Linked DNA regions of Homo sapiens. The protein of the gene in region 2 purifies or fractionates together with the protein of the main gene of each other region. This does not show direct contact. Each region holds a gene or a part of one and is shown on either strand. Other genes may lie near its edges. The genes, in order: MKI67 and LIMK1.

Evidence for each region.
Region 1: the proteins of LIMK1 (region 2) and MKI67 purify together in Homo sapiens (affinity purification with mass spectrometry; 2 studies listed by BioGRID and IntAct, with this or other methods). This does not show direct contact.

The regions. Positions count from the first base shown.
Region 1 is NC_000010.11:128,093,750-128,109,438, reverse strand, and holds the end of MKI67 (proliferation marker protein Ki-67), read left to right. Parts: intron 1-15; coding exon 16-6,860; intron 6,861-7,737; coding exon 7,738-8,181; intron 8,182-10,183; coding exon 10,184-10,249; 3' UTR 10,250-12,780; downstream 12,781-15,689. UniProt on the Homo sapiens protein: Protein that associates with the surface of mitotic chromosomes and acts both as a chromosome repellent during early mitosis and chromosome attractant during late mitosis.
Region 2 is NC_000007.14:74,089,495-74,105,183, reverse strand, and holds part of LIMK1 (LIM domain kinase 1), read right to left. Parts: intron 11,968-15,689; exon of another isoform or gene 11,935-11,967; coding exon of another isoform or gene 11,885-11,934; intron 8,563-11,884; coding exon 8,424-8,562; intron 8,105-8,423; coding exon 7,995-8,104; intron 6,153-7,994; coding exon 5,946-6,152; intron 1-5,945. UniProt on the Homo sapiens protein: Serine/threonine-protein kinase that plays an essential role in the regulation of actin filament dynamics. Acts downstream of several Rho family GTPase signal transduction pathways.

The DNA.
Region 1 (15,689 bases), on a different chromosome or scaffold from region 2:
ATGTTTTTATTTCAGGAGGAAATGTGTTCTTCAGTGCACAGAATGCAGCAAAACAGCCATCTGATAAATGCTCTGCAAGCCCTCCCTTAAGACGGCAGTGTATTAGAGAAAATGGAAACGTAGCAAAAACGCCCAGGAACACCTACAAAATGACTTCTCTGGAGACAAAAACTTCAGATACTGAGACAGAGCCTTCAAAAACAGTATCCACTGCAAACAGGTCAGGAAGGTCTACAGAGTTCAGGAATATACAGAAGCTACCTGTGGAAAGTAAGAGTGAAGAAACAAATACAGAAATTGTTGAGTGCATCCTAAAAAGAGGTCAGAAGGCAACACTACTACAACAAAGGAGAGAAGGAGAGATGAAGGAAATAGAAAGACCTTTTGAGACATATAAGGAAAATATTGAATTAAAAGAAAACGATGAAAAGATGAAAGCAATGAAGAGATCAAGAACTTGGGGGCAGAAATGTGCACCAATGTCTGACCTGACAGACCTCAAGAGCTTGCCTGATACAGAACTCATGAAAGACACGGCACGTGGCCAGAATCTCCTCCAAACCCAAGATCATGCCAAGGCACCAAAGAGTGAGAAAGGCAAAATCACTAAAATGCCCTGCCAGTCATTACAACCAGAACCAATAAACACCCCAACACACACAAAACAACAGTTGAAGGCATCCCTGGGGAAAGTAGGTGTGAAAGAAGAGCTCCTAGCAGTCGGCAAGTTCACACGGACGTCAGGGGAGACCACGCACACGCACAGAGAGCCAGCAGGAGATGGCAAGAGCATCAGAACGTTTAAGGAGTCTCCAAAGCAGATCCTGGACCCAGCAGCCCGTGTAACTGGAATGAAGAAGTGGCCAAGAACGCCTAAGGAAGAGGCCCAGTCACTAGAAGACCTGGCTGGCTTCAAAGAGCTCTTCCAGACACCAGGTCCCTCTGAGGAATCAATGACTGATGAGAAAACTACCAAAATAGCCTGCAAATCTCCACCACCAGAATCAGTGGACACTCCAACAAGCACAAAGCAATGGCCTAAGAGAAGTCTCAGGAAAGCAGATGTAGAGGAAGAATTCTTAGCACTCAGGAAACTAACACCATCAGCAGGGAAAGCCATGCTTACGCCCAAACCAGCAGGAGGTGATGAGAAAGACATTAAAGCATTTATGGGAACTCCAGTGCAGAAACTGGACCTGGCAGGAACTTTACCTGGCAGCAAAAGACAGCTACAGACTCCTAAGGAAAAGGCCCAGGCTCTAGAAGACCTGGCTGGCTTTAAAGAGCTCTTCCAGACTCCTGGTCACACCGAGGAATTAGTGGCTGCTGGTAAAACCACTAAAATACCCTGCGACTCTCCACAGTCAGACCCAGTGGACACCCCAACAAGCACAAAGCAACGACCCAAGAGAAGTATCAGGAAAGCAGATGTAGAGGGAGAACTCTTAGCGTGCAGGAATCTAATGCCATCAGCAGGCAAAGCCATGCACACGCCTAAACCATCAGTAGGTGAAGAGAAAGACATCATCATATTTGTGGGAACTCCAGTGCAGAAACTGGACCTGACAGAGAACTTAACCGGCAGCAAGAGACGGCCACAAACTCCTAAGGAAGAGGCCCAGGCTCTGGAAGACCTGACTGGCTTTAAAGAGCTCTTCCAGACCCCTGGTCATACTGAAGAAGCAGTGGCTGCTGGCAAAACTACTAAAATGCCCTGCGAATCTTCTCCACCAGAATCAGCAGACACCCCAACAAGCACAAGAAGGCAGCCCAAGACACCTTTGGAGAAAAGGGACGTACAGAAGGAGCTCTCAGCCCTGAAGAAGCTCACACAGACATCAGGGGAAACCACACACACAGATAAAGTACCAGGAGGTGAGGATAAAAGCATCAACGCGTTTAGGGAAACTGCAAAACAGAAACTGGACCCAGCAGCAAGTGTAACTGGTAGCAAGAGGCACCCAAAAACTAAGGAAAAGGCCCAACCCCTAGAAGACCTGGCTGGCTTGAAAGAGCTCTTCCAGACACCAGTATGCACTGACAAGCCCACGACTCACGAGAAAACTACCAAAATAGCCTGCAGATCACAACCAGACCCAGTGGACACACCAACAAGCTCCAAGCCACAGTCCAAGAGAAGTCTCAGGAAAGTGGACGTAGAAGAAGAATTCTTCGCACTCAGGAAACGAACACCATCAGCAGGCAAAGCCATGCACACACCCAAACCAGCAGTAAGTGGTGAGAAAAACATCTACGCATTTATGGGAACTCCAGTGCAGAAACTGGACCTGACAGAGAACTTAACTGGCAGCAAGAGACGGCTACAAACTCCTAAGGAAAAGGCCCAGGCTCTAGAAGACCTGGCTGGCTTTAAAGAGCTCTTCCAGACACGAGGTCACACTGAGGAATCAATGACTAACGATAAAACTGCCAAAGTAGCCTGCAAATCTTCACAACCAGACCCAGACAAAAACCCAGCAAGCTCCAAGCGACGGCTCAAGACATCCCTGGGGAAAGTGGGCGTGAAAGAAGAGCTCCTAGCAGTTGGCAAGCTCACACAGACATCAGGAGAGACTACACACACACACACAGAGCCAACAGGAGATGGTAAGAGCATGAAAGCATTTATGGAGTCTCCAAAGCAGATCTTAGACTCAGCAGCAAGTCTAACTGGCAGCAAGAGGCAGCTGAGAACTCCTAAGGGAAAGTCTGAAGTCCCTGAAGACCTGGCCGGCTTCATCGAGCTCTTCCAGACACCAAGTCACACTAAGGAATCAATGACTAACGAAAAAACTACCAAAGTATCCTACAGAGCTTCACAGCCAGACCTAGTGGACACCCCAACAAGCTCCAAGCCACAGCCCAAGAGAAGTCTCAGGAAAGCAGACACTGAAGAAGAATTTTTAGCATTTAGGAAACAAACGCCATCAGCAGGCAAAGCCATGCACACACCCAAACCAGCAGTAGGTGAAGAGAAAGACATCAACACGTTTTTGGGAACTCCAGTGCAGAAACTGGACCAGCCAGGAAATTTACCTGGCAGCAATAGACGGCTACAAACTCGTAAGGAAAAGGCCCAGGCTCTAGAAGAACTGACTGGCTTCAGAGAGCTTTTCCAGACACCATGCACTGATAACCCCACGACTGATGAGAAAACTACCAAAAAAATACTCTGCAAATCTCCGCAATCAGACCCAGCGGACACCCCAACAAACACAAAGCAACGGCCCAAGAGAAGCCTCAAGAAAGCAGACGTAGAGGAAGAATTTTTAGCATTCAGGAAACTAACACCATCAGCAGGCAAAGCCATGCACACGCCTAAAGCAGCAGTAGGTGAAGAGAAAGACATCAACACATTTGTGGGGACTCCAGTGGAGAAACTGGACCTGCTAGGAAATTTACCTGGCAGCAAGAGACGGCCACAAACTCCTAAAGAAAAGGCCAAGGCTCTAGAAGATCTGGCTGGCTTCAAAGAGCTCTTCCAGACACCAGGTCACACTGAGGAATCAATGACCGATGACAAAATCACAGAAGTATCCTGCAAATCTCCACAACCAGACCCAGTCAAAACCCCAACAAGCTCCAAGCAACGACTCAAGATATCCTTGGGGAAAGTAGGTGTGAAAGAAGAGGTCCTACCAGTCGGCAAGCTCACACAGACGTCAGGGAAGACCACACAGACACACAGAGAGACAGCAGGAGATGGAAAGAGCATCAAAGCGTTTAAGGAATCTGCAAAGCAGATGCTGGACCCAGCAAACTATGGAACTGGGATGGAGAGGTGGCCAAGAACACCTAAGGAAGAGGCCCAATCACTAGAAGACCTGGCCGGCTTCAAAGAGCTCTTCCAGACACCAGACCACACTGAGGAATCAACAACTGATGACAAAACTACCAAAATAGCCTGCAAATCTCCACCACCAGAATCAATGGACACTCCAACAAGCACAAGGAGGCGGCCCAAAACACCTTTGGGGAAAAGGGATATAGTGGAAGAGCTCTCAGCCCTGAAGCAGCTCACACAGACCACACACACAGACAAAGTACCAGGAGATGAGGATAAAGGCATCAACGTGTTCAGGGAAACTGCAAAACAGAAACTGGACCCAGCAGCAAGTGTAACTGGTAGCAAGAGGCAGCCAAGAACTCCTAAGGGAAAAGCCCAACCCCTAGAAGACTTGGCTGGCTTGAAAGAGCTCTTCCAGACACCAATATGCACTGACAAGCCCACGACTCATGAGAAAACTACCAAAATAGCCTGCAGATCTCCACAACCAGACCCAGTGGGTACCCCAACAATCTTCAAGCCACAGTCCAAGAGAAGTCTCAGGAAAGCAGACGTAGAGGAAGAATCCTTAGCACTCAGGAAACGAACACCATCAGTAGGGAAAGCTATGGACACACCCAAACCAGCAGGAGGTGATGAGAAAGACATGAAAGCATTTATGGGAACTCCAGTGCAGAAATTGGACCTGCCAGGAAATTTACCTGGCAGCAAAAGATGGCCACAAACTCCTAAGGAAAAGGCCCAGGCTCTAGAAGACCTGGCTGGCTTCAAAGAGCTCTTCCAGACACCAGGCACTGACAAGCCCACGACTGATGAGAAAACTACCAAAATAGCCTGCAAATCTCCACAACCAGACCCAGTGGACACCCCAGCAAGCACAAAGCAACGGCCCAAGAGAAACCTCAGGAAAGCAGACGTAGAGGAAGAATTTTTAGCACTCAGGAAACGAACACCATCAGCAGGCAAAGCCATGGACACACCAAAACCAGCAGTAAGTGATGAGAAAAATATCAACACATTTGTGGAAACTCCAGTGCAGAAACTGGACCTGCTAGGAAATTTACCTGGCAGCAAGAGACAGCCACAGACTCCTAAGGAAAAGGCTGAGGCTCTAGAGGACCTGGTTGGCTTCAAAGAACTCTTCCAGACACCAGGTCACACTGAGGAATCAATGACTGATGACAAAATCACAGAAGTATCCTGTAAATCTCCACAGCCAGAGTCATTCAAAACCTCAAGAAGCTCCAAGCAAAGGCTCAAGATACCCCTGGTGAAAGTGGACATGAAAGAAGAGCCCCTAGCAGTCAGCAAGCTCACACGGACATCAGGGGAGACTACGCAAACACACACAGAGCCAACAGGAGATAGTAAGAGCATCAAAGCGTTTAAGGAGTCTCCAAAGCAGATCCTGGACCCAGCAGCAAGTGTAACTGGTAGCAGGAGGCAGCTGAGAACTCGTAAGGAAAAGGCCCGTGCTCTAGAAGACCTGGTTGACTTCAAAGAGCTCTTCTCAGCACCAGGTCACACTGAAGAGTCAATGACTATTGACAAAAACACAAAAATTCCCTGCAAATCTCCCCCACCAGAACTAACAGACACTGCCACGAGCACAAAGAGATGCCCCAAGACACGTCCCAGGAAAGAAGTAAAAGAGGAGCTCTCAGCAGTTGAGAGGCTCACGCAAACATCAGGGCAAAGCACACACACACACAAAGAACCAGCAAGCGGTGATGAGGGCATCAAAGTATTGAAGCAACGTGCAAAGAAGAAACCAAACCCAGTAGAAGAGGAACCCAGCAGGAGAAGGCCAAGAGCACCTAAGGAAAAGGCCCAACCCCTGGAAGACCTGGCCGGCTTCACAGAGCTCTCTGAAACATCAGGTCACACTCAGGAATCACTGACTGCTGGCAAAGCCACTAAAATACCCTGCGAATCTCCCCCACTAGAAGTGGTAGACACCACAGCAAGCACAAAGAGGCATCTCAGGACACGTGTGCAGAAGGTACAAGTAAAAGAAGAGCCTTCAGCAGTCAAGTTCACACAAACATCAGGGGAAACCACGGATGCAGACAAAGAACCAGCAGGTGAAGATAAAGGCATCAAAGCATTGAAGGAATCTGCAAAACAGACACCGGCTCCAGCAGCAAGTGTAACTGGCAGCAGGAGACGGCCAAGAGCACCCAGGGAAAGTGCCCAAGCCATAGAAGACCTAGCTGGCTTCAAAGACCCAGCAGCAGGTCACACTGAAGAATCAATGACTGATGACAAAACCACTAAAATACCCTGCAAATCATCACCAGAACTAGAAGACACCGCAACAAGCTCAAAGAGACGGCCCAGGACACGTGCCCAGAAAGTAGAAGTGAAGGAGGAGCTGTTAGCAGTTGGCAAGCTCACACAAACCTCAGGGGAGACCACGCACACCGACAAAGAGCCGGTAGGTGAGGGCAAAGGCACGAAAGCATTTAAGCAACCTGCAAAGCGGAAGCTGGACGCAGAAGATGTAATTGGCAGCAGGAGACAGCCAAGAGCACCTAAGGAAAAGGCCCAACCCCTGGAAGATCTGGCCAGCTTCCAAGAGCTCTCTCAAACACCAGGCCACACTGAGGAACTGGCAAATGGTGCTGCTGATAGCTTTACAAGCGCTCCAAAGCAAACACCTGACAGTGGAAAACCTCTAAAAATATCCAGAAGAGTTCTTCGGGCCCCTAAAGTAGAACCCGTGGGAGACGTGGTAAGCACCAGAGACCCTGTAAAATCACAAAGCAAAAGCAACACTTCCCTGCCCCCACTGCCCTTCAAGAGGGGAGGTGGCAAAGATGGAAGCGTCACGGGAACCAAGAGGCTGCGCTGCATGCCAGCACCAGAGGAAATTGTGGAGGAGCTGCCAGCCAGCAAGAAGCAGAGGGTTGCTCCCAGGGCAAGAGGCAAATCATCCGAACCCGTGGTCATCATGAAGAGAAGTTTGAGGACTTCTGCAAAAAGAATTGAACCTGCGGAAGAGCTGAACAGCAACGACATGAAAACCAACAAAGAGGAACACAAATTACAAGACTCGGTCCCTGAAAATAAGGTGAGAGGAAGTATTACAGCATCACTCAATATCGTCTTGGATAGTTGTGAATTTCTGTGTTATACTTTGCATGTAACCTGACGTTATAAGTGGTTATCCTTTCCCCAGAGGGTTTCCTTTAACACTGAATAACTGCAGGCCATGGTAAAGAATCTTCTTGGGACCTATAGAGGGAATAGACTAATATGGGAAAAGAACTAGTCAAACATGATTAATGCAAACTTAGAAGAGTTTCTCAAAAGCCAAATGAGTAATGTTCATCTTCAAATGTTTAAAAAATTGATCAGAGGATAGGTGGGTGGTTCAGTTCTATGTTCTGGATACTGTCACCAAGACCAGGACTGGGTTAAAAATCCTATCTATGTCACTATTTTAACTATCAGAACAATATCAATAAGGAATGTGTATTCTTGAGAAGGGGAAACTGTCTGGACTGTTAGATAGAGAGGCTCCCACTGCATGCAGAGAAGTTTGGGGAAACTCCAGAAATGGCAATTTCCTGTTCTGCCTTAGCAGTGATGGTTAAAGGAATAGGAATTCATTTACTCCCTGTAAATGAATGAATAACGGACCTTCTTTCTATAATGTAAACTGTAAAAATTAGATTTGATATATATCTTATTAGGCATTGTTATTGAAATTTATCCTGAATTCCTTATTTATAATTTGTCAGCAGAGACAGTCATTTCTCCATAGGAGCAAAGTACCAAGGCATTACCTTGACTATCCTAGATGACAAGTCTCTTAGACAATTCATCAGTGTGTGATTTTCAAATGATTTCTCCTTTTAGGTTACTGTTGATTGTGCTCCCTGTTGAATTTTGAAGTTTGTTTTACTAATTATTGGAATTTTGTGGATGTCTTCTCATTTCTTTAGGGAATATCCCTGCGCTCCAGACGCCAAAATAAGACTGAGGCAGAACAGCAAATAACTGAGGTCTTTGTATTAGCAGAAAGAATAGAAATAAACAGAAATGAAAAGAAGCCCATGAAGACCTCCCCAGAGATGGACATTCAGAATCCAGATGATGGAGCCCGGAAACCCATACCTAGAGACAAAGTCACTGAGAACAAAAGGTGCTTGAGGTCTGCTAGACAGAATGAGAGCTCCCAGCCTAAGGTGGCAGAGGAGAGCGGAGGGCAGAAGAGTGCGAAGGTTCTCATGCAGAATCAGAAAGGGAAAGGAGAAGCAGGAAATTCAGACTCCATGTGCCTGAGATCAAGAAAGACAAAAAGCCAGCCTGCAGCAAGCACTTTGGAGAGCAAATCTGTGCAGAGAGTAACGCGGAGTGTCAAGAGGTGTGCAGAAAATCCAAAGAAGGTAAGCCATTTACTGTTTCCCTGTTTTAAAAGACACAGAATGTTTTGATGTATTTTTTGCCCAAGGTTGCAAAGGCAAACAAAAAGCATTATCTTCAACAGCACTCTGCCAGCTCCCAGTTACATTAATGGAAGGAGCATTATGCTAAGACATAAATTTGGTCATTTTAGTTATATTTTGTTGTGTCTACTTTGGGAATTTCACTTCAAATAGCAAATTCACGTTATGAAGACTTTCTTCAGAAAGAAAAGGAATTTGTCTAGTGGCTAATTTCTGACTGCTTATGATGTACCTCATGATACAATTGTAGGTAGATGTCTTCAGCCTTTCTGTAGTTCAAAATCACCTCTTGAAACAGGAAAATTCTTTTTCCAAAAAAAACTATTGAAACAGAAAAATTTCCAAGGCATTCTTTGGAAAGGCAGAAGGAACAGAAGTTGGGATGTCCCTGAGACACATGCTCACTATGTGAGAGTTCCTGGTCAGTGGGGGATGCGTCTGCCCTCCAACCCTCCTCCAGCCAGAGACTATCTAAGCTAATGAACTTTAAGTGCTACTGAAATCACATCAAGTTGAGCCACTCATAATTACAAGCATGTGGACAAATCCATAAGAATGATTAGATTCCATTAGTGTTCTTCTGGGGAATACTTGGTTTAGCTAAAATAAAAATAGGTTGAATTGCTCCCTTTTTGTGAGCAATTCACAAAAATATAATATAAATTTAATTCTTAGCACACACAAAATTTGGACCTAAAACTACCATATTCTGAGTTCAGCAAACGAAACTCATGTAGCAATAACCTCTTCAGATACAGAATTCTGGCAAGTACAGCTGTCCAGACAGACCCTCTTCGGCACAAACTAGGAAGCTTCAACTGCCAAGAAAAGGAAAGATTCCCAGGTGTCCCCAGTACCTGCTGCATAGCCAGGCAGCCAGTGGAGGGGGAGGGCTTGTGTGTCTGGATGGTGGGCAGGAAGTCCTAGTGGGGAGATGCCCATAGACTGTTCCAGAGAGGGAAGAGGAGAGGCTCAAGAAGGGCACTGATGCCCACACAGGTGTCCTAAGTCAGAGACTGTACTTCTGGGGCAGGCTGGAAGCAGAAGACACCCGACAGTGCCAGACAAGGTCCTAGAAACCACAGGCACACCAGGGACGCAACAGCTGACGTGGGTCAGCACGTTCACCCGTCGAGTCTTACAATAAAACGCAGGCTCCAGGCGCTTACCGAATTCACAGTCTGGAAGGTGCTGCTTCCTCAGAATGAAACCAAAGAAGGGTGAAAGCGAATCTTTTAACTAGGATGATTCCTAAACACAGAGCAACCAGGCCCAAGGCTGAGCCAGGCCTGGTGTGTTCTGCCGGGGGCGTTCCAGCCTCTTCTCACACACAAGCACCCAGGAGACGCCCAACACACACATGCTCCTCTTTGCCGAGCTCTTCGGTGGGTGTCGGTAGTCCTAGAAAATGCATATATAAGATAGATTTTTTCCAGTAAGAAGCTTGTAGCCATGCTTTTCACCATGGTTCCTCTCCCTTAGCCAAGGGGTGAGAACTACTGCAAGAGTAAAGGCCAAGGCAGGTCTCCTGCATGCAAGTTGGGCATGCTTCTGTCTACAGGGGTTCCTTGGTTTAGGAGACCCAAAAGACTTAATCCTGGTTGGATTCACTTTTTCTGAGTGACATTTTTTAGTTTGTGAAAATGTGTGCATCGATGAAGAAATTTTATTATGAATTAGCTTAAAAATGCATTAGGAACTTCTGTATGAAAAGATCACATTATTTAAGTGTAAAAAAACTGCATAATAAAAGCAGTTCAAGTCAAGAAAAACAATGTTAATGGAATATATTTTAAAACTTATTTCCAACCTCAAAATTAATTTTCTGCAACTAAGGACCTGCATAATACCTAGTAAGCCTTTGGGGTTTTGCAGAGGAGGTCGATTCTAAAAATGGGTGTTTAAATTACTTAAGAGTTCTATTTTTTTTCTTCCCACACAGGCTGAGGACAATGTGTGTGTCAAGAAAATAAGAACCAGAAGTCATAGGGACAGTGAAGATATTTGACAGAAAAATCGAACTGGGAAAAATATAATAAAGTTAGTTTTGTGATAAGTTCTAGTGCAGTTTTTGTCATAAATTACAAGTGAATTCTGTAAGTAAGGCTGTCAGTCTGCTTAAGGGAAGAAAACTTTGGATTTGCTGGGTCTGAATCGGCTTCATAAACTCCACTGGGAGCACTGCTGGGCTCCTGGACTGAGAATAGTTGAACACCGGGGGCTTTGTGAAGGAGTCTGGGCCAAGGTTTGCCCTCAGCTTTGCAGAATGAAGCCTTGAGGTCTGTCACCACCCACAGCCACCCTACAGCAGCCTTAACTGTGACACTTGCCACACTGTGTCGTCGTTTGTTTGCCTATGTCCTCCAGGGCACGGTGGCAGGAACAACTATCCTCGTCTGTCCCAACACTGAGCAGGCACTCGGTAAACACGAATGAATGGATGAGCGCACGGATGAATGGAGCTTACAAGATCTGTCTTTCCAATGGCCGGGGGCATTTGGTCCCCAAATTAAGGCTATTGGACATCTGCACAGGACAGTCCTATTTTTGATGTCCTTTCCTTTCTGAAAATAAAGTTTTGTGCTTTGGAGAATGACTCGTGAGCACATCTTTAGGGACCAAGAGTGACTTTCTGTAAGGAGTGACTCGTGGCTTGCCTTGGTCTCTTGGGAATACTTTTCTAACTAGGGTTGCTCTCACCTGAGACATTCTCCACCCGCGGAATCTCAGGGTCCCAGGCTGTGGGCCATCACGACCTCAAACTGGCTCCTAATCTCCAGCTTTCCTGTCATTGAAAGCTTCGGAAGTTTACTGGCTCTGCTCCCGCCTGTTTTCTTTCTGACTCTATCTGGCAGCCCGATGCCACCCAGTACAGGAAGTGACACCAGTACTCTGTAAAGCATCATCATCCTTGGAGAGACTGAGCACTCAGCACCTTCAGCCACGATTTCAGGATCGCTTCCTTGTGAGCCGCTGCCTCCGAAATCTCCTTTGAAGCCCAGACATCTTTCTCCAGCTTCAGACTTGTAGATATAACTCGTTCATCTTCATTTACTTTCCACTTTGCCCCCTGTCCTCTCTGTGTTCCCCAAATCAGAGAATAGCCCGCCATCCCCCAGGTCACCTGTCTGGATTCCTCCCCATTCACCCACCTTGCCAGGTGCAGGTGAGGATGGTGCACCAGACAGGGTAGCTGTCCCCCAAAATGTGCCCTGTGCGGGCAGTGCCCTGTCTCCACGTTTGTTTCCCCAGTGTCTGGCGGGGAGCCAGGTGACATCATAAATACTTGCTGAATGAATGCAGAAATCAGCGGTACTGACTTGTACTATATTGGCTGCCATGATAGGGTTCTCACAGCGTCATCCATGATCGTAAGGGAGAATGACATTCTGCTTGAGGGAGGGAATAGAAAGGGGCAGGGAGGGGACATCTGAGGGCTTCACAGGGCTGCAAAGGGTACAGGGATTGCACCAGGGCAGAACAGGGGAGGGTGTTCAAGGAAGAGTGGCTCTTAGCAGAGGCACTTTGGAAGGTGTGAGGCATAAATGCTTCCTTCTACGTAGGCCAACCTCAAAACTTTCAGTAGGAATGTTGCTATGATCAAGTTGTTCTAACACTTTAGACTTAGTAGTAATTATGAACCTCACATAGAAAAATTTCATCCAGCCATATGCCTGTGGAGTGGAATATTCTGTTTAGTAGAAAAATCCTTTAGAGTTCAGCTCTAACCAGAAATCTTGCTGAAGTATGTCAGCACCTTTTCTCACCCTGGTAAGTACAGTATTTCAAGAGCACGCTAAGGGTGGTTTTCATTTTACAGGGCTGTTGATGATGGGTTAAAAATGTTCATTTAAGGGCTACCCCCGTGTTTAATAGATGAACACCACTTCTACACAACCCTCCTTGGTACTGGGGGAGGGAGAGATCTGACAAATACTGCCCATTCCCCTAGGCTGACTGGATTTGAGAACAAATACCCACCCATTTCCACCATGGTATGGTAACTTCTCTGAGCTTCAGTTTCCAAGTGAATTTCCATGTAATAGGACATTCCCATTAAATACAAGCTGTTTTTACTTTTTCGCCTCCCAGGGCCTGTGGGATCTGGTCCCCCAGCCTCTCTTGGGCTTTCTTACACTAACTCTGTACCTACCATCTCCTGCCTCCCTTAGGCAGGCACCTCCAACCACCACACACTCCCTGCTGTTTTCCCTGCCTGGAACTTTCCCTCCTGCCCCACCAAGATCATTTCATCCAGTCCTGAGCTCAGCTTAAGGGAGGCTTCTTGCCTGTGGGTTCCCTCACCCCCATGCCTGTCCTCCAGGCTGGGGCAGGTTCTTAGTTTGCCTGGAATTGTTCTGTACCTCTTTGTAGCACGTAGTGTTGTGGAAACTAAGCCACTAATTGAGTTTCTGGCTCCCCTCCTGGGGTTGTAAGTTTTGTTCATTCATGAGGGCCGACTGCATTTCCTGGTTACTCTATCCCAGTGACCAGCCACAGGAGATGTCCAATAAAGTATGTGATGAAATGGTCTTAAAACCCATGGTATTTTTATTATAGGGAGAGTGGGGAAAGAAACTAAGTGTGGGTGGGGCAGACAGGCCAGTGTAAGAGAGACTGGTTCATTACGTTCCATTTTCATTTCTACAAGGACTTGGCTGGATGGTCATTTTCTCTCTTGGCCAATAAGTCATCGCAGCTGCTTTTAGTCCTGCAGGAATGGCCTGCTGTATCTCGAGAACTACCTGCAACCGCAGCTGTGCCTGCTTTGTTGCAACAGAGGTGCTGAGTTGAGGGATGGGGATTTGACCCAGGGCTGCCCCAAGTCAGCAGATGAAAATACATGCCCTGACTTTCCTCTGGCAACCCTGATTTGACATGGATCCCGGGAGTGAATTTGCTGGCAAGTTCCAGGGGCAGTAGCCTGCGGTAGGTCAGTTAGTCCTGAAGAAGAGGCCTTTCTGTCGGAGAGAAAAGTTTGCAGGTGGGTGCATCTACCATCTTGAGAGGCTGAGGAGGGAGGGAGAGCCGTGCTCGGTGGTCAGTCTGGTGAAGGAAGTGGGTTCAGTCTGCAGCCCACATCCTGGGCTGTCATCAAGAATTAACATGGCAAACGGCGACTCCATAAAGTAAACTGTAGCTACTTAACTAAATGATTTCGTGTGGCTGAGATCCTACTGTTTGCTGGGTTTCCTGGAAAAGTCCTCTAGATGAACTGCAGGAATCTCCTGGCACTCTGGTTACAGCTGGAGAAACTGATTTCTGTGCTGTCCAGGTGCTCCCAGACCCCCAAGGCATCTCCAGGACACAGTCACCAAACCCCCATCCTGGTATTACTGGCATTGAGTGCCACGTAGGCACACAGCACTCCATAATTTGGAAATGTGGATTTCATTGCTATTGCTCTTCATGAGGGAACAAATAATACCCATGATGTATTGGCAGGAAGCCACGCCCCCCCTCCCCCGCTGCCACCCCCACAGCGCGCACAGTGATTTCAGGAAGGAGGTTTGATTGGTTTGTTGTGTGTTGCCCTGCAAGGGCCCCAATCAGCTTCCTGCTCATCAGCCCCATCTCAGGCAAGTCCCACATCTGTGATGTCAAGCCCTGAGCCGGGTAATTGGACTTGGATACCTGCTTGACTCATCTTTCCAGTGAGGTTCCTAAGGAGCATCCCCAACCCCACCTCCCAGGGGGAGCTCTCGATGTCACCTGAAGAACAAACAAACAAAAACTGTGTTGATGGTACAGTCCCAGGGCTCCGTGACTGGACAGGCTCCCTGCGTGATACACCTGTGTATGTCACTACAGAAATACAGCTGGTGCAGGCCTGTCCGCCTCTCTCACAGGTCAGAGTGTTCTAAAATCCATCCTGGCCCTTGTTGTCTGTCTGCTTGGGGTTAGGGCAGGTGCTCCTTTATCATTTGTAAAGTTTATGTGATGTCTGGTATGTGTTCCACACCCTTGCAGAGTGTAAATTCCTAGAGAGAGTTCAGACTTCGGAGTCAAATGCACAGGTGCAAATTCCAGCTTGTCTAATTTGCTGCTGTGTGAACGTGGACAGTCTTTCAACTTTGCTAGTTTCCCATCTGTAAAATGAGGCTGTTCAGTACCTGAGCACATAGCATTGTTGAGAAGATTAAATGAGACAATATGTGTAAAACACTTAGCATTTTACCCAGAGCTTGGTAAGCATCAATACATGCTAATTATCATCATCATCAGAAGATGAATATATTTATTAGATGCCTAAAACTCCAAGATATTTCCCTTGGCTCATAAATTCTTTATCACTAGGGATTTCTCTATGGAAGTGAAGGAAGAATCTGGAACGTAACAGGCCTGAATAACCAGGGGCAGTGGCTCACACCTGTAATCCCAGCACATTGGGAGGCCAAGGCTGGAGGATCGCTTGAGGCCAGGAGTTCAAGATCAGCCTGGGCAACATAGCGAGACCCCATCTCTACAAAAAAAAAAAAAAAAGAAAAAAGAAAAGAAAAAATTAGCGGGCATTGTGGCACATACCTGTAGTCCCAGCTACTTGGGAGGCTGATGTGGGAGGACTGCTTGAGCTCAGGAGTTCAAGGCTGCAGTGAGCTATGATTGTATCACTGCACTCCAGCTTGGTCAACAGAGCAAGACCCTGTCTCAAAAAAGAAAAATAAAAATCCTGAATAATATGTCTATGTCTTCATCGAGCCCACGTATTGAAAACTACCCAAACCACCAACAATGCAAAGAAACATTATTTAACTAAGAGTCGAGTAACCAAATTTCAGGGTTATCCAAACTGAATATGGCCTCTGCAGGAGAAAAGAATATGTGTGATGTGGCAGCCACAATCTGATACCATATTAACACTGTCTTTTATTTTTTTTTTTTTGAGACGGTCTCACTCTGTTGCACAGGTTGGAGTGTAGTGGCACAATCTTGGCTCACTGCAACCTCTGCCTTCAAGGTTCAAGAGATTCTCCTGCCTCAGCCTCTGAGGAGCTGGGATTACAGGCATGCACCACACATACCTGGCTAATATTTGTAATTTTTTTTTTAGGAGAGACAGGGTTTCACCATGTTGGCCAGGCTGGTCTCAAACTCCAGACCTCAGGTGATCCAGCCACCTTGGCCTCCCAAAGTGTTGAGATTACAGGCGTGAGCCACCATGCCCAGTCAACAGTGTCTTTAAATGACATCAGATCGCAGAACTTTGCTGAGCTTGGCCCAGACACAGGTCTGGCTAAAACAGGTGGTGCTGGGACCAGGCATGGCCAGGACATAGGGAAGCACATCCCTGCATAGAAAAGGTTCTGTGGATTTTAATCCAGGTCAGCAATTAGCAAACTTTTTCTGTCAAGGACCAGGCAGTAAATATGGCGGCTTCGTGGGCCATACTGTCTGTTATGCTGACTCACCTCTGCTGTTAAAGAACAGAAGCGGCTGTAGGCAACACG
Region 2 (15,689 bases):
TCAGGAGTTTGAGACCAGCCTGGCCAACATGGTGAAACGCCGTCTCTACTGAAAATACAAAAATTAGCCGAGCGTGGCAGTGGGCGCCTGTAGTCCTAGCTACTTGGGAGGCTGAGGCAGGAATTGCTTGAACCTGGGAGGTGGAGGTTGCAGTGAGTCAAGATTCTGCCACTGCACTCCAGCCTGGGTGGACAGAGCGAGACTCCGTCGCAAAAACAAAGTGCTAGGATTACAGACATGAGTCATTGCACCTGGCCTGCCTGGTATGCTTGGGGCAGATGAGTGCCTTGGGTCCCAAAAAGGTCCCGGATTAGTGGCTTCATATCTGACTCCCAAACTCGCCCTGCAAGAGGAGGCCAAGCTCTATTGCTCCTGCATTGGCAGGAGGGAGCTGGCAGCTTGCCCTGAGCCACAATTGCAGGGTGAAGACGGGAAAGAGACCCTCGATCAGTTGCCTATAAGCTAACTCACAAAAAGACCAATTTGCCAAATTTACTTATTTCTTTTAACTCTTCGGTGTTAGGGACCTGGTTTTCTTTTCTTTTCTTTTTTTTTTTTGAGACAGAGTTTTGCTCTTGTTGCCCAGGCTGGAGTGCAATGGAGTGATCTCGGCTCATTGCAACTTCCGCCTCCCAGGTTCAAGTGATTCTCTTGCCTCAGGCTCCTGAGTAGCTGGGATTACAGGCATGTGCCACCATGCCTGGCTAATTTTGTATTTTTAGTACAGATGGGGTTTCTCTATGTTGGTCAGGCTGGTCTTGAACTCCTGACCTCAGGTAATCCACCCACCTTGGCCTCCCAAAGTGCTGGGATTATAGGCGTGAGCTGGTTTTCATTTTGCCTCATAAAAGCTTTTTAGGGAATGCTCACTTTGTCTCTGCCCTAGGTCCTGGAGATGGAAAAGGGGATGGGGGTAAGGCAGAGAGGAGACTGAGAACTTTAAGAAAAACAGGGCCAGGTGTGGTGGCTCATGCCTGGAATCCCAGCACTTTGGGAGGCCAAGGTGGGAGGATTGCTTGAGACTAGGGGTTTGAGACCAGCCTGGGCAGCATAGCAAGACCCCATCTCTATGACATTTTTTACAGAAAATTAGCTGAGCATGGTGGCACACTCCTGTAATCCCAGCTATTTGGGAGGCTGAGGTGGGAAGATCACTTGAGGTCAGGAGTTCGAGACCAGCCTGAGCAAAATAGTGAGACCTCACCATTACAAAAAATAAAAAATTAGCCAGGCATGGTGGTGCTGCCTGTAGTCCCAGCTACTCGAGAGGCTGAGGCAGGAGGATCGCTTGAGCCCATGAGGTCGAGGCTGCAGTGAGCTATGATCATGTCACTGCACTCCAGCCTGGGCAACAGAGTGAGACCCTATCTCAAAAAAACAACCAAGCAAACAAAAAGACTATTCTCGTATGGGGGAGAAGCTCTTCCTTACAGTAACAAATGCAGAAGGAAGAACAGAGTTAGAAATTCAGCATTTGGTAGCCACCCTAGTAATAATCGCTACAGGCAAGAATCATCAATAGATGCTCAAATCATTTGGGGAAGGGTTTTTGGGAACAGGATATTTACAGACTCAAATCTCACAAATGGTTTATTGATGACAAAGGGAAAAAAATCCTTACAGTACAGAAAAAACAAGTAATCAAAGTGAACATCCTCAGCAAAGGGCACACTGACATCATATGTCTCCTGGCAAGATCCACTCGGAAGGACAGAGGATCACTTATGCAGTATCAGGCCAAACCTGCAGAGCCTGTCTCCCTAAGAGGAAACATCAGTCAAACCCAAATGCGAGGGCAGGTACGATGGCTCACGCCTGTAATCCCAGCACTTTGGGAAGCTGAGGCGGGAGGATCACTTGAGCCTAGGAGTCTGAGACCAGCCTGGGCAACACAGTGAGACCCTGTCTCTTTTTAAAAAAAAAAAAAAAAAAAAGGAAAAACATTTTACTTTAATGACTGGCCTGTACACTTCAAAAATGTCAAGATCATGAAGGGCAATGAAAGGCTGAGGAAATGGCCAGACGCAGTGGCTCATGCCTGTAAACCCAGCATTTTGGGAGGCTGAGGTGGGTGGATCATTTGAGGTCAGGAGTTCAAGACCAGCCAGGGCAACATGGTAAAACCCCGTCTCTAATAAAAATACAAAAATTAGGCATGCATAATGGTGCACGCCTGTAATCTCAGCTACTTAGGAGGCTGAGGCAGGAGAATCACTTAAGCCCAAAGGCGGAGGTTGCAATAAGCCAAGATTGCGCCATTGCGCTCCAACCTGGGCAACAAGAGCAAAATTCCGTCTCAAAAAAAAAAAAAAAAAAGATACTGATGACACATGACGATTAAATGCAATGTTGATCATGGACTGGACTGTGGATGAGGGGGAGATTGCTATAAAGGACAGCTCAGTAGTTCAGTATAGAGACAATAGGCAAAATTTGAATATGGTCTGTGTATTAGATAATGGTATCAATGTTACATTTCCAAAATGTGATCACTGAACTATAAGATACAATTGATAATTACATAACAGAATGCCTAGCCAGGCGTGGTGGCCCGTGCCTGTAGTCCCAGCTACTTGGGAGGCAGAGGTGGGAGGATCACTTGAGCCTGGGAGGTTGAGGCTGCAGTGAGCTGTGATCGCATCACTGCACTCCAGCCTCAATGACAGTGATACCCTGTCTCCAAAAAAAAAAAAAAAAAAGAGAAGGTCCTTCTTTTGAGAATATCTAGCATAATTGTGGGGGAGTCAATGATCCCTGCAACTTACTCCCAAACGATCAATAAATAACAACATGTACATGTATGTACAAATATAAACAAGTCACTAAACATGTATATGTATCTGTATCCATATATGTATATATAGAGAGACACACATATAACTCCCAAATATGGCAGTTACGAATTGGTGAACCTTGGTGAAGGGTGTGTATGTATTCAATGGACTTATTATTTTAGCAAATTTTCTATAAATCTGCAAAATGCGAAGATGAAAAGTTGAAAAAAACCAAAGAAAATATTTTCATTGATACAGGCTTTGCATGCATATAACCTTAAAAATAAGCCAGGCATAGTGGCTCACGCTTGTAATCCTAGCACTTTGGGAAGCCAATGTGGGAGGATTGCTTGAGCCCAGGAGTTCAAGACTAGCCTGGGCGACACAGCAAGACTCAGTCTCTACAAAAAATTAAAAAATTAGCTGGGTGTGGTGGTGTGTGCCTGTAGTCTCACTACTCAGGAGGCCGAGGTGAGTGGATTGCTTGAGCACAGGCATCTGAGGCTATAGTGAGCTATGATTGTGCCACTGCACTCCAGCCTGTATGACAGAGCAAGACCCTGTCTCAAAAAAAAATTGTGTGTCTATATATATATATATATATATATGACATACATATGTAAATTCCTTAGAATCTCACATCCTCTCCCTTGGTTTGCTAAAGCAGCAGGTGGCCTGGATAAATTAGACCTTCCTTAAAACGCTGCTATACACAAAATGAAAAGCGGTCAACTAAAACCAGTTTAAAACAAATAAGTAAATCTTTGGCAAGTTGGGCTCTTTCTGGGAAGGGTGTGGCTCTTTGCAGAACTGGGATGTTCCAGATGTTGGCTGGGCGAATGCTTACCCAGTGAGGCAGACAGGGAGGAGACGTCATTAACTGTCTTCTTCATTTTTATTTTAGAGATAGGGTCTCGCTCTGTCGCCCAAGCTGGAATGCATGGTGTCATCATAGCTTGCTGCAGCCTCCACCTCCTGGGCTCAAGCAATCCTCTCACCTCAGCCCTCCGAAGTGGCTGAGATAACAGGCATGAGCCGCTGCACCCAGCTGACTGTCTTCATTTCTAAAATTCTGCCTGGATTTCAGGGACCAGCTGCAGCCTCTGACTCTGTGGGGACCTCCCTTGGCCCTCTGGTAAGAGCCGTTGGTCTGGGAGTTTCCTCATCTCTTTCAAGCAGCTGTCTGCTCATCATGTATGTAAAGCAGCTGCTGGCTTGGCTGATGTCAAGGGATGGAGACACACAGTCAAGCCCAGTATAATTTTCTGTCCCCAGGGCCACCTTCACATCTCAACAGTGCCTATGCAGTGCCAGGCACCTGCCAGGTGTACAAGAAACATTCACTGCGTCAAATGAAAGCTAGCACTTGGTAGGGCCGGGCGTGGTGGCTCATGCCTGTAATCGCAGCACTTTGGGAGGCCGAGACGGGCGGATCACGAGGTCAGGAGATCGAGACCATCCTGCCTAATATGGTGAAACCCTGTCTCTACTAAATATAAAAAAAAAATTAGCCGGGCATGGTGGCAGGTGCCTGTAGTCCCAGCTACTCGGGAGGCTGAGGCAGGAGAATGGCGTGAACCCAGGAGGCGGGGCTTGCAGTGAGCCGAGACCACACCACTGCACTCCAGCCTGGGCGACAGAGCGAGACTCCGTCTCGAAAAAAAAAAAAAGAGAGAGAGAAAGCTAGCACTTGGGCCGGGCACGGTGGCTCACACCTGTAATCCCGGCACTTTGGGAGGCCGAGAAGGGAGGATCACTTGAGCCCAGGAGTTTGAAACGAGCCTGGCCAACATGGTGAAACCCTGTCTTTACTAAAAATACAAAAATTAGCCACATGTGGTCACCTGTAGTCCCAGCTACTCAGGGGGCTGAGGTGCAAGAATTGCTTGAACCTTGTGGGTGGAGGTTGCAGTGAGCTGGTATCACACCACTGCACCCCAGACTGGGCGACAGAGTGAGACTGTCTCAAAAAAAAAGAAGTGACCAATTGCCCAAAAGTAGAAACACTGCATGCTACTTCTCAAGGTGTCAATAAAGGCGCCACAGAAATCTTAGAAAGCTCCAAGGTATCCAACTCCCTCATTGTTCAAACAGACCCCCAAAGCCTAGAGAGAAAGCAGCTGCTCAAAGTCACACAGTAATCTAATCTTTATCAGCCCTGCCCCATTTTTTTGAGACAGGGTTTTGCTCCATTGCCCAGCCTAGAGTGCAGTCGTGCAATTATAGCTCACTGTAGCCACTTCCTGGGCTCAAGAGATCCTTCTGCCTCAGCCTCCCAAGTAGCTGTGACTACAATGTTTCCCAGGCTGGTTTCGAACTCCTGGCCTCAAGTGATCCTCCCATCTCAGCCTCCCAAAGTGTTTCGATTATAAGTGTGAGCAACCATGCCCAGCCTTTATGTGTTCAGTGATTTCACCATGCCTGGCTAATTTTTAATTTTTTTTTTTTTTTTGTAGACATGCAGGTCTCGCTATGTTGCCCAAGCTGGTCTCAAACTTCTGGCCTTAAGTGATCCTCTCACTTTGGCCTCCCAAAGTGCTGAGATTACAGGTGTGAGTTACTGCGCCCAGCTTCTTCACTCATTCTTGACTTGGTTCCTCCTCTTTCTTGTTGGATCAGACATGGACTAAAGAAAATGTCTTTTTATTTTTTGAGTGTGTTTTTTTTATTTTTATTTTTTTGATACAGAGTTACACTCTTGTTGCCCAGCCTGGAGTGCAATGGCAGTCGGGGCTCACTGAAACCTCCACCTCCTGGGTTCAAGTGATTCTCCTGCCTCAGCCTCCCAAGCAGCTGGCACTATAGGCACACACTACCATGCCTGGCTACGTTTGTATTTTTAGTAGAGACGGGGTTTCACCACATTGCCCAGGCTGGTCTCGAACTCCTGACCTCAGGTGATCCACCCACTTCGGCCTCCCGAAGTGCTGAGATTACAGGTGTGGGCCACCATGCCCGGTTGAAAATGTCTTTTTATTGTATCTGGCATTTGTAATGGTATTCAGAGGAATGACTGGGCCAGAAATCTGGCAAACCAGGTTGTCAGAACTGGGCCCCATCTGTACCCAAACACTCGCCCATTCATTTTCAGGGCCCCCAGTGCCAGACTCTGCCACCCACATCAACAGCCATAGCCACACCGACGGCAGCCTCGGCAGGCCGGCCACTCACCCCTGGACGCGGACGGTGTGTGAGTGCTCGGTGCCACAGCCCGGTGGGCCGTGCGGGGGGTCAATGGAGACTGAAAGTCCACGCTTGCCATGAGATGAGGCTGGGATGGACACCAGGGTGACGGTGTGGGGCAGGTGGGAGCCAGGGGAGTCAGGCAGGATCTGCTCGATGACGGGGGTCACCACAGTCTGGTAGTAGCAGTGCCCGCTGCAAGAGCCGCCGGGGTGGGAAGAAAAGAGTGTCAAGGGCGTCATCAATTTCAGCATCTCTGCAGCCCCCAGCCCCAGGCTCTTCCCCCAATCCCTTCCTTTTTTTTTTTTTTTTTTGAGATGGAGTCTCACTCTGTTGATTACAACACTGCACCCCAGCCTGGGTGACAAAGCAAGACTCTGTCTCAAAAGAAAAGGAAAGCTAGCAATTGTCCAAAAGTGCAGTGGTGTGATCTTGGCTCACTGTAACCTCCGCCTCCTGGGTTCAAGCGATTCTCCTGCCTCAGCCTCCTGAGTAGCTGGGATTACGGGCACGCACCACCATGCCTGGCTAATTTCTTATTTTTAGTAGAGACGGTTTCACCATGTTGGCCAGGCTGGCCTCAAACTCCAGACCTCAGGTGATCTGCCTGCCTTGGCCTCCCAAAGTGCTGGGATTATAGGGGTGAGCCACTGCACCTGGCCAGCTTTCTTTTCTTTCACTCTTCCTATGGAACTGGGAGCAGGAACTGTGCGTGCCCAGCCAGCCCTCGTCCCTCTGAGTCATTCGGGTCTGTCTACTCGCTGTGATCCTGTAAGGCGGCCAGGACAAGGCCTGAGGATAAATCCAGTTCAGGAGGAAGTCATTAAAAGCCCATCTGGGATCAAGCCACGTTGTCCTCTAATCCAGCTTGATCAGTGTTGTATAAGAAAGAATCTGTCTGGGTTTTGTCCTGATTCCTGGGAGGGAGACTCTAAGTCCTTGGAATGGGGTATCTTTGTTATTCATGAGCCCCTCAGACTATTCCTGAGTTGATACTAATGAGATGACTCAGCCCCGCAAAGATACATCATGTGATTTGAAGAGGGTTGCAGCTTTCATCCAGCCTGACCTCCAAGAACGGGGGCTAGAGACTAAGCTTGATCATACGGCCAATGACTCAATCAGTCATGACGATGTAATGAAATCCCAATAAAAACTCTGGCTGCTGAAGCTCAGTGAAGCTTCCTGGTTGGTGATCACATTGATGTGCTAGGGGAGGGAGGGGAGATGCTTCTTCATTTGGTCGGACCTGAGCTGTGTCCTTCATAATAAAACTGGGATAAAAATGGAGGATTTCCTGAGTTCTGTGAGTCTGTTAGCAAACGATCAAACTTGGCAGGGTCTTGGGAGTCCCTGAATTTGTAGCCAGTCGGTCAGAAGTGTGAGTGGGTTGGGGACCCCTGAACTTGTGGCTGGTGTCTAAAGAGGGAGCAGTTATGCTGGGGATGGTGTCCTTAACTTGTGGCATCCACCCCACCTCTGGTGGTTTGTGCCAGCACCATGCTGCAGTCATGGCCAGTAAGAAAGCTGACGTCTGAGGTTTTCTGTTTTGAGACAGAGTCTTGCTCTGTTGCCTAGGCTGGAGGGCAGTGGTGCAATCTTGGCTCACTGCAACTTCCACCTCCCAGGTTCAAGAGAGTCTCCTGCCTCAGCCTCCTGAGTAGCTGGGATTACAGGCACCCGCCACCACACCTGGTTAATTTTTGTATTTTTAATAGAGATGGGGTTCCACCATGTTGGCCAGGCTGGTCTTGAACTCCTAGCCTCAAGGGATCCACCCACCTCGGAATCCCAAAGTGCTGGGTTTACAGGCGTGAGCCAGCATGCCTGGCCGTCTGAGGCTTTTTCACACTGACTTCTGTGTGTTATTTCTCACTTGTTTCCATGCCGGGATGGGAAAGGAGATATGAACATTTGCCCCAACAAACCTCACCCCATGGGAAAGGGCAGGAGGCCCGGGTGTGGGAGAGTCAGCACCCTTGCAGATCTGTGACACAGGTGGGCCTCCTAGGCTCAGGGAGGGGCCAAGGCACTCACCAGTACAGCTTGGAGTGCTCCACCAGCGTGTAGGTGTCCCCGTCACCGATAAAGGTCCCACACGTGAGGCAGATGAAACACTCGGGGTGGTACTTCAGCTCCCCAGCCACCTGGTGCGGGGGTGAGGAGGGAACAGCCCAGCTCAGCAGACCCAACAACCCCCACAGATCCTCCCCTAGGCCTCTTCCAAGGGTGTCACCAAAAAAACAACTGCAGGGACCCGGCTGGCCAGCTGCTGAGCTCCTGGACAGAGCTGGCTCCATAGATGGGGGCGCTGAGGGATACAGACAGACAGTCAGGCTCAGAAAGCAGCTCCAAAGACCAGCAAAAAGGAGACCAGGAGAGACAATGATGGGAGAGAGACCTGGAGCATGGGGTCTGCTTGGATACCCCCACCCCAGGTGAGTGTGCAAGGCAGGGGGCGCTCACCATAACCAGTCCCTTGGTGATTTGCTCAGAGCACCCATGGCAGGACTCGCCATAGCGGGCCCAGTAGTCCTTCTTGCAGAAGAGCTGCCCATCCTTCTCATAGTACTGGTGCGACAGGGAGGCACTGCAGTCACAACACCTGCAGGAGAGGGGCCGGGCTGAGACGTCCACTCCCGCCCTCCTCCACCTCACCTGGGCCCCTGCCTCGGCTACAGGCACCTTTGTAAGAATTAGAACAAGTTTTCTTTTTGTTTGTTTTTTGAGACGGAGTCTTGCTCTGTCGCCAGGCTGCAGTGCAGTGGCTCGATCTCGGCTCACTGCAACCTCTGCCTTCCAGGTTCAAGTGATCCTCCTGCCTCAGCCTCCTGAGTAGCTGGGACTACAGGCACACACCACCATGCCCAGCTAATTTTTTGTATTTTTAGTAGAGATGGGGTTTCACCATCTTGGCCAGGATGGTCTTGAGCTCTTGACCTCGTGATCCGCCCACCTCGGCCTCCCAAAGCGGTGGCTCACACCTGTAATCCCAGCACTTTGGGAGGCCGAGGTGGGCAGATCACTTGGGGTCAGGAGTCTGAGACCAGCCTGGCCAACATGGCAAAACCCAGTCTCCACTAAAAATACAAAAACTAGCCAGGCATGGTGGTGGGCACCTGTAATCCCAGCTACTCGGGAGGCTGAGGCAGAAGAATCGCTTGAACCTGGGAGGCAGAGGTTGCAGTGAGCCAAAATTGTGCCACTGCACTCCAGCCTGGCGACAGAGTGAGACTCTGTCTCCAAAAAAAAAAAAAAGAAAAAGAAAAATAGAGGAGAATCCCCAGGTGTGCAGGGTCATCAAAGCCACGGTTCGCCTGTTTCCTCACTAGAGGCTACCAAGGAGGCCTGGTTGGTGGGGCCTTGAAGGGCAGATGGGGAGGAATGCCAGGCTGTAGGTGCCACAACACAGGCCAGGGTTAGACCTACATTCCCGGCTTTTTCCCAGCCAAGCATCCCGGTGGGGTGGGGACCAGCAGCCCTGCCCAGCCAGGATGAACAAATATAGAAATGTCAGTCTGGGATGGGCATGGTGGCTCATGCCTGTAATCTCAGCACTTCAGGAGGCGAAGGTGGGAGGATCACTTGAGGCCAGAGGTTTGAGGCCAGCCTGGGCAACACAGTAAGACCCCATCTCTTAAAAAATTATTAAAAAATTAGCCAGGATACAGTGGGTCCTGTACTCCCAGCTACTAGGGAGGCTGGGGAGGGAGGATCGCTTGAGCCCAGGAGTTGAAGGCTGCAGTGTGCTATGATTACACCACTGCACTCCAGCTGGGTGACACAGCAAGACCCTCTCTCTAAAAAATAAAATAAACCAAATGCGGGTGCCCCAGTGAACCCGCAGGCACACATGTGCCCCCCTGGGTCCTGCTGTGGGGGGGCATGTCTGGGTCAGGGTACAGACCCACACAGAGAACAGGCTAGGGGGTCCGTCCCGCTCTGCCACTGTTTGGGTGCTATGTGTCGGTCACACAGGGACAGAAGAACCAGGCTCCAAAGGGCCACAATCTAGGAGAGAGGCAGGTAGGAAAGACTGGGACCTGGATGAGATGAGGGACCTTAAGGGCTGTTTCCTACCCAGGAAACTCTCCACAGCCTGGGGCCTGCATGGGTATCACTCATGGGCTGTCTGCTAATGCTAATTAACTGTAACTAGGGAACTGGGGTTGAGGAGGGGAGTTCAGCAGTAAGCTGGTGGGACACTGTCCCTTTAAGAGGATCCAGCCACTTCCCCTTTGTCTGGGAGCCTAGGGGAAGGGGTGGGAGTAAAGGGGGAGCAGAAAATGCCAGGGTTTGGAAGCATGTGGGTGAGGGGTGCATCCAGGAAGGGAGGCCTGGTGCATTCCTCCATGGGGGTGGGGAATGCGGAGGCTGGGCCACCGGAGGTGGTGGCGGTGGCAGGGGCGGCAGGAGACGCCACGTCAGGGTCACTGCCCCACTCGGTGCACAGCAGGGGGCCGGCAGTTCACCGGATCACCGCGGGGGTGGGGCGGAGGACGGAAGTTGGTGAGGGGGGTGGTCTACAGGGCACCTCCCGTCCCAGGGCTCTAACCTAATTCGAAAGGGAAAGGAGTGCTGCAGCCGGGAGGCCAGGCCGACTTTGGGTCCTGCCCTCGCAGAAGCCCCCACGCCTGGTGCAGACCAATGACTCGCTTCCTGCCCTTACACCGATCACACATGACCTCGGTCACAGGGGTGCCACATCACAGGAGTGCCCCTCACTCCTGCCTGCAGGAAGCAGGGCCCCCGCATACCTCTGCAGTGGGCGGTGGGTGGGTGGGGGATTAGGAATTGCTGTAACCAAGTGTCCCCATCCCGGGGAGGGAACGCTCTTCCACAACCTGGAAACTGCTACTGGTCCATTCACTCGCTCACGCAGAAACTCACAAACCTTCATCACTGTTGCTCACTTTCAGCAGCTGTGAAAGACCCGGCGGTGATGACTCACCCGAGGGTTTGAGTGCACTTGGCTTCCCTCCGGTCACCACTTCCTTGATGCCTGTTCTACCAGACACTAGGTCTGCCCACCAGTGTCTGCCACTGACCTGCCAGCTCCCCGCGGCCCCAGGCTGGGCATCCACAAAGCTTGGCCCAGGAGAGAGCATAAGTGATTCCTGCCGGCGAGGCCCCCGCTGTGCACCCAGCATCCTCAGAACTGCCCCGAGACCCCGTCTCTGCCTCCATTGCAGACAGGGCACCCAGGCCTGGCCCAGGCTGACTTGGTGGCTCAGTGGCTGGGGCTCGGGGCCTCAGTGAACCTTTGCGGATGGAGAGCACGCCGGAGTTCCTGTCCCTGCCCCTGCCCCGCCCCTCACCCCTCAGGCCTGCATTCTGGCAGGAGCTAGAGGCTGACGGGCCTGGCTCTCTTGAGTGCCCCACACAGAGTGCCTGACTGTCCCTAAGAAGGATGTCAAGGGAGGTGCGCCAGGTACTGAGGCTGTGCAGAGCTGCCCTGGGGACAGCCAGAGAGGAACTCCCTCGGGGGAGAGCCATGCCCTGGCCCCACTCCAGGGTACCCCTCCCTGAGAGCAGGGTAGGACAAAGCCAGGCTGGGGCAGGAGAAGGGGGAGGCACCCGGAGGGCATGAAAGGGGTGCTCTGCAGCCCAGGTGGCTGGCTGGGCTGGGAGACAGCGGTGGCTTCCATAATGACAGGAGTGGAGAATCATCGTTCTACCCAGGGCCACATCCCTGGCCACCAGGTGTGAAGAAACAGCAGGTGGAGGACCGGCCTCATGGGGAGACTGTCCTGGAAGGACCCACAGCTTTGGCAGTGGCCTGCTCCCAGGCTGCAGCCGACAGTAACCAAGGAGTTTCAGTTCTGCCCCAGAGCCTGGACCTAGGTGGGTCGGCTTCCAGCCCCAGGCCTTACACCAGGGGCCCTGCCTGGAGCCCAGGACAAGTAGGGAGGGGGATTCCCACTTACTTAGCCCTCTGGAGGAAGCGGCGTCTTCTTGGGGCTGAAGCCAACAGCATCCTCTGTGGCTACACTGGGGGCTCTGGAGGTCTAAGGGAGGGCAGGGGTGGCCAGACCAGCTGCTTCCCCATCCTCCCTCAGGGGCTCAGGATTGGAGGCTGCAGAGGGTGGGGCCAGCGTGGCTGCAGCGCACAGGAGGAGGCTGCAGCCGCGTGGGTGCCAGGGGACTTGGTCTGAGCCTGCAACAGGAAGTGGCTGAAGCACCCTTTGCCTGGGCTTTGGTGCGGGTGGGGAGCGAGCGATCTAGGCTTGGACCCCAGGCAGGGAGCCTGTGGCCCGTCCCTGGCCCTCAGTCCTGAACACACGCTGTAGGCTCCTCAGCCTCGGCCCTGGCAACGGCACTGAAGGCCTCAGGCTTCTCTGGGGACAGGGACAAGCTCAAAAGCAGCTGCCTCTTCCACTGCTGCCCCCAAGGGAACAGAGGTCGACTTCCTATGGACAGTTTGTCTTCGCCAAAAAGGTCCCCTGAAGAAAGGGAGGTTGCATCCCGCCGCTGCTCCAACCCCACAGGCCAGCAGCATGCTCAGCCCTCCTTGCCCAGGGCCAGCCCACCCAGCTGCCAAGGAGATGCTACCAGGGATGCGGCAGCCCTGGGGGTTGTGCACAGGAGGCTTCCTGGAGGGGACCTCGCAGAGGCAGTATGTGAGCCAAAGGGAAGCCTGGACCAGTCCAAGCCTGGTCATAACCTTCCGGGAGGCAGGGCCTGCAAGGGGCTGGGAGGTCAGAACACAGAAAGGGGCAGGCCCCGGAGTGACAACCCTCAGGGCTAATACCAGAGGTCCCATGGGCCTGCAGCAATTGTCCCACTCTACAAAGAGGGGCAGCATCTGGTCCCGGCTGAGCCCTCCAGCAGCCTGCAGGCCCCCATCACAGCACTTATGACCCTGTCTGTCCTATCAGCGTGGGACTTCCTCAAGAGCAGGGGCCAGGGGACAGGAGCAGCTCTCAGATGCTCAGGTTATGACATTCAAAGATGCACAGCTGCCTGTGCGCAGTGGCTCATGCCTGTAACCCCAGCACTTTGGGAGGCTGAGGTAGACAGATCGCTTGAGGTCAGGAGTTTGAGGCCAGCCTGGCTAACATGGTGAAACCCCGTCTCTATTAAAAACACAAAAATTAGCCAGGTGTGGTGGTGGGCGCCTGTAGTCCCAGCTACCAGGAAGCTGAGGCAGGAGAATCGCTTGAACCCGGGAGGCGGAGGTTGCAGTGAGCTGAGATCACGCCACTGCACTCCAGCCTGGGCAACAAAAGCGAGACTCTGTCTCAAAAAAAAAAAAAAAAAAAAAAAAAAAAAGCTGTACAGCCAACGGCACCTTCCACGGGGCCCACAAGGCTCTATGCACCCCTGGCCACTGACTGCACTCCCGCACGCTGGCTTTGTGGTCCTCAGTTGTGCCAAGCACATTCCCACCCCAAGGCCTTTGCACATGCACCGGCCCTACCCCCGACATCCTCTAAACACTGCTCCCTTCAATTCTGTCCCTTAAACATCACTTCCTGAGAGTGCTGTCCCCCAATACCTGACACTACATTTGTTCACTGAGTGTCTTGCCCACTAGAAGGCAGGGACCCTGTTGGTCTGGGAGGTGTGGGACTAAGCTGTGGTTACACTGTAGGCTCTGAAGCCAGGCTGCCTCGGTTCGAGTCCTGATTCTACTCCTCACGCGCTGTGAGACTTTTGGCAAGTGACTGAACTCTGCACCTCATTTGTAAAATCGCTTTTTAAAAATTTGAGACAGTGTCTCGCTCTGTTGCCCAGGCCAGAGTGCAGTGGCGTGATCACAGCTCACTGCAGCTTCGACATCCTGGGTTCAAATGATCCTCCCATCTCAGCCTCCTGAGTAGCTGGGACTACAGGTACGCACCACCACGCCTGGCTAATTTTTTTGTAGAGATGGAGTCTCACTATGTTGCCTAGGTTGATCTCAAACTCCTGGCCTCAAGCAGTCCTCCTGCCTCAGCCTCCCAAAGTGCTGGGATTACAGGCGTGAGTTACCAGCCTTGGCCTTAAAATCGCTTTAATATTGCCGGGCACGGTGGCTCACGCCTGTAATCCCAGCACTTTGGGAGGCTGAGGTGGGCGGATCACGAGGTCAGGAGATCGAGACCATCCTGGCTCACACAGCGAAACCTCGTCTGTACTAAAAATACAAACAAACAAAAAAAAATTAGCCGGGTGTGGTGGTGGGCGCCTGTAGTCCCAGCTACTTGGGAGGCTGAGGCAGGAGAATGGTGTGAACCCGGGAGGCAGAGCTTGCAGTAAGCCGAGATTGCGCCACCGCACTCCAGCCTGGGCGACAGAGCGAGACTCAAAAAAAAAATCGCTTTAATAAATAAATAGCACCCCCTTACTGGGTTGTTGTGAGAGGGGCCTAATGCAGAGTGGGCACGCCATAATTATTTGCAAGTGACTGACTCAGGGACCCTAGGAAGTTCCACTGGGAGGGGCATGCAGAGGGGCCAGGAAAGTGGAAATCACTGGCCACCTCCCCAGTGGGGCTGGAGGCTGCAGACCCCTCATGGCCTTATCACATTGCCCCTGCCCGAACACCTTCAGAGGGGTGAGGGGCCCTGGAACAAAGGTCTCAGTGCATGAAATGAGGTCTGGGCCGGGCCCAATGCCTCAAGCCCAGGGCCCGAGGGAGACTAAGCAGAGTCTAGCACCTTGGGCATCCCACTGAGAGCCAGCCTGGCTGTGGTCAGCCATGCACCCAGGTGAGCAGTGACCCCCTCTGAGCTGCTCTGCTCACTGTCACGCGGTGAGGACCACCAGCTTTGGGGACTGTTGGGAGTATCACACCCACAAGCCACGAGGTAGAAGCCATGGCTCTTACTTCTAGTGGATCTTTCCCCATATTGAGACTTTTTTTTTTCGAGATGGAGTCTTGCTCTGTCACCCAGGCTAGAGTGCAGTGGCGCGATCTTGACTCACTGCAATCACTGCCTCTCGGGTTCAAGCGATTCTTCTGCCTCAGCCTCCTGAGTAGCTGGGATTACAGGCGCCCACCAACAGGCCCGGCTAATTTTTGTATTTTTAGTAGAGATGGGGTTTCACCATGTTGGCCAGACTGGTCTCAAACTCCCGACCTCAGGTGATCTGCCTGCCTTGGCCTCCCAAAGTGCTGGGATTACAGGCGTGAGCCACTGCACCTGGCTTCCTTCTTGAGTTTCACTACACCAGGGACAGCACAAACATGCCTCCTCTTTACTGCCCTGACCTGGGGACTCACCCCTCTCCTGGTGAGTGATTTGGGACAGGCCACTCCAAAGCCAGGTACACCCATCCTGTAACACGGCTTCCCTCCTGTGGCTTCTGTGGCTCTACTCCTGACCCTCTCTCCATCACCCAAGGCTCCATCTCCCCCCTCACCGCAGACACAGGGGTCCCCAAAGTTCTTCCCTTCATTCGTCTTGGCCCTATCACAAATCCCACTCACCATCTCAGGGCCAGCTCCGAGGCGGCCGTTTTTTCTGACTTTCCTACCTCCAACTGGACTCAGGCTCCCATGGCTAGCTCTGGGCAGGACACAGCCACCATGGATAGCCCATGTCCCCTCCAGCTCAACACAGATGAGCATGTCTCCTCCCCAACATGACCCCCAATTCCATCAGAGTCAACAAACCACCAACTCCCCAGTGCCCAGGTTAGAAAACCAGATGGCTTCAGGTTCCACCCTGCCATTCGCCAGTGCCCATGCCCTCCCCGAAGCCCCTGTCTTTTTCTTTCTTCCTTTCTTTCTTTTTTTTGAGATGG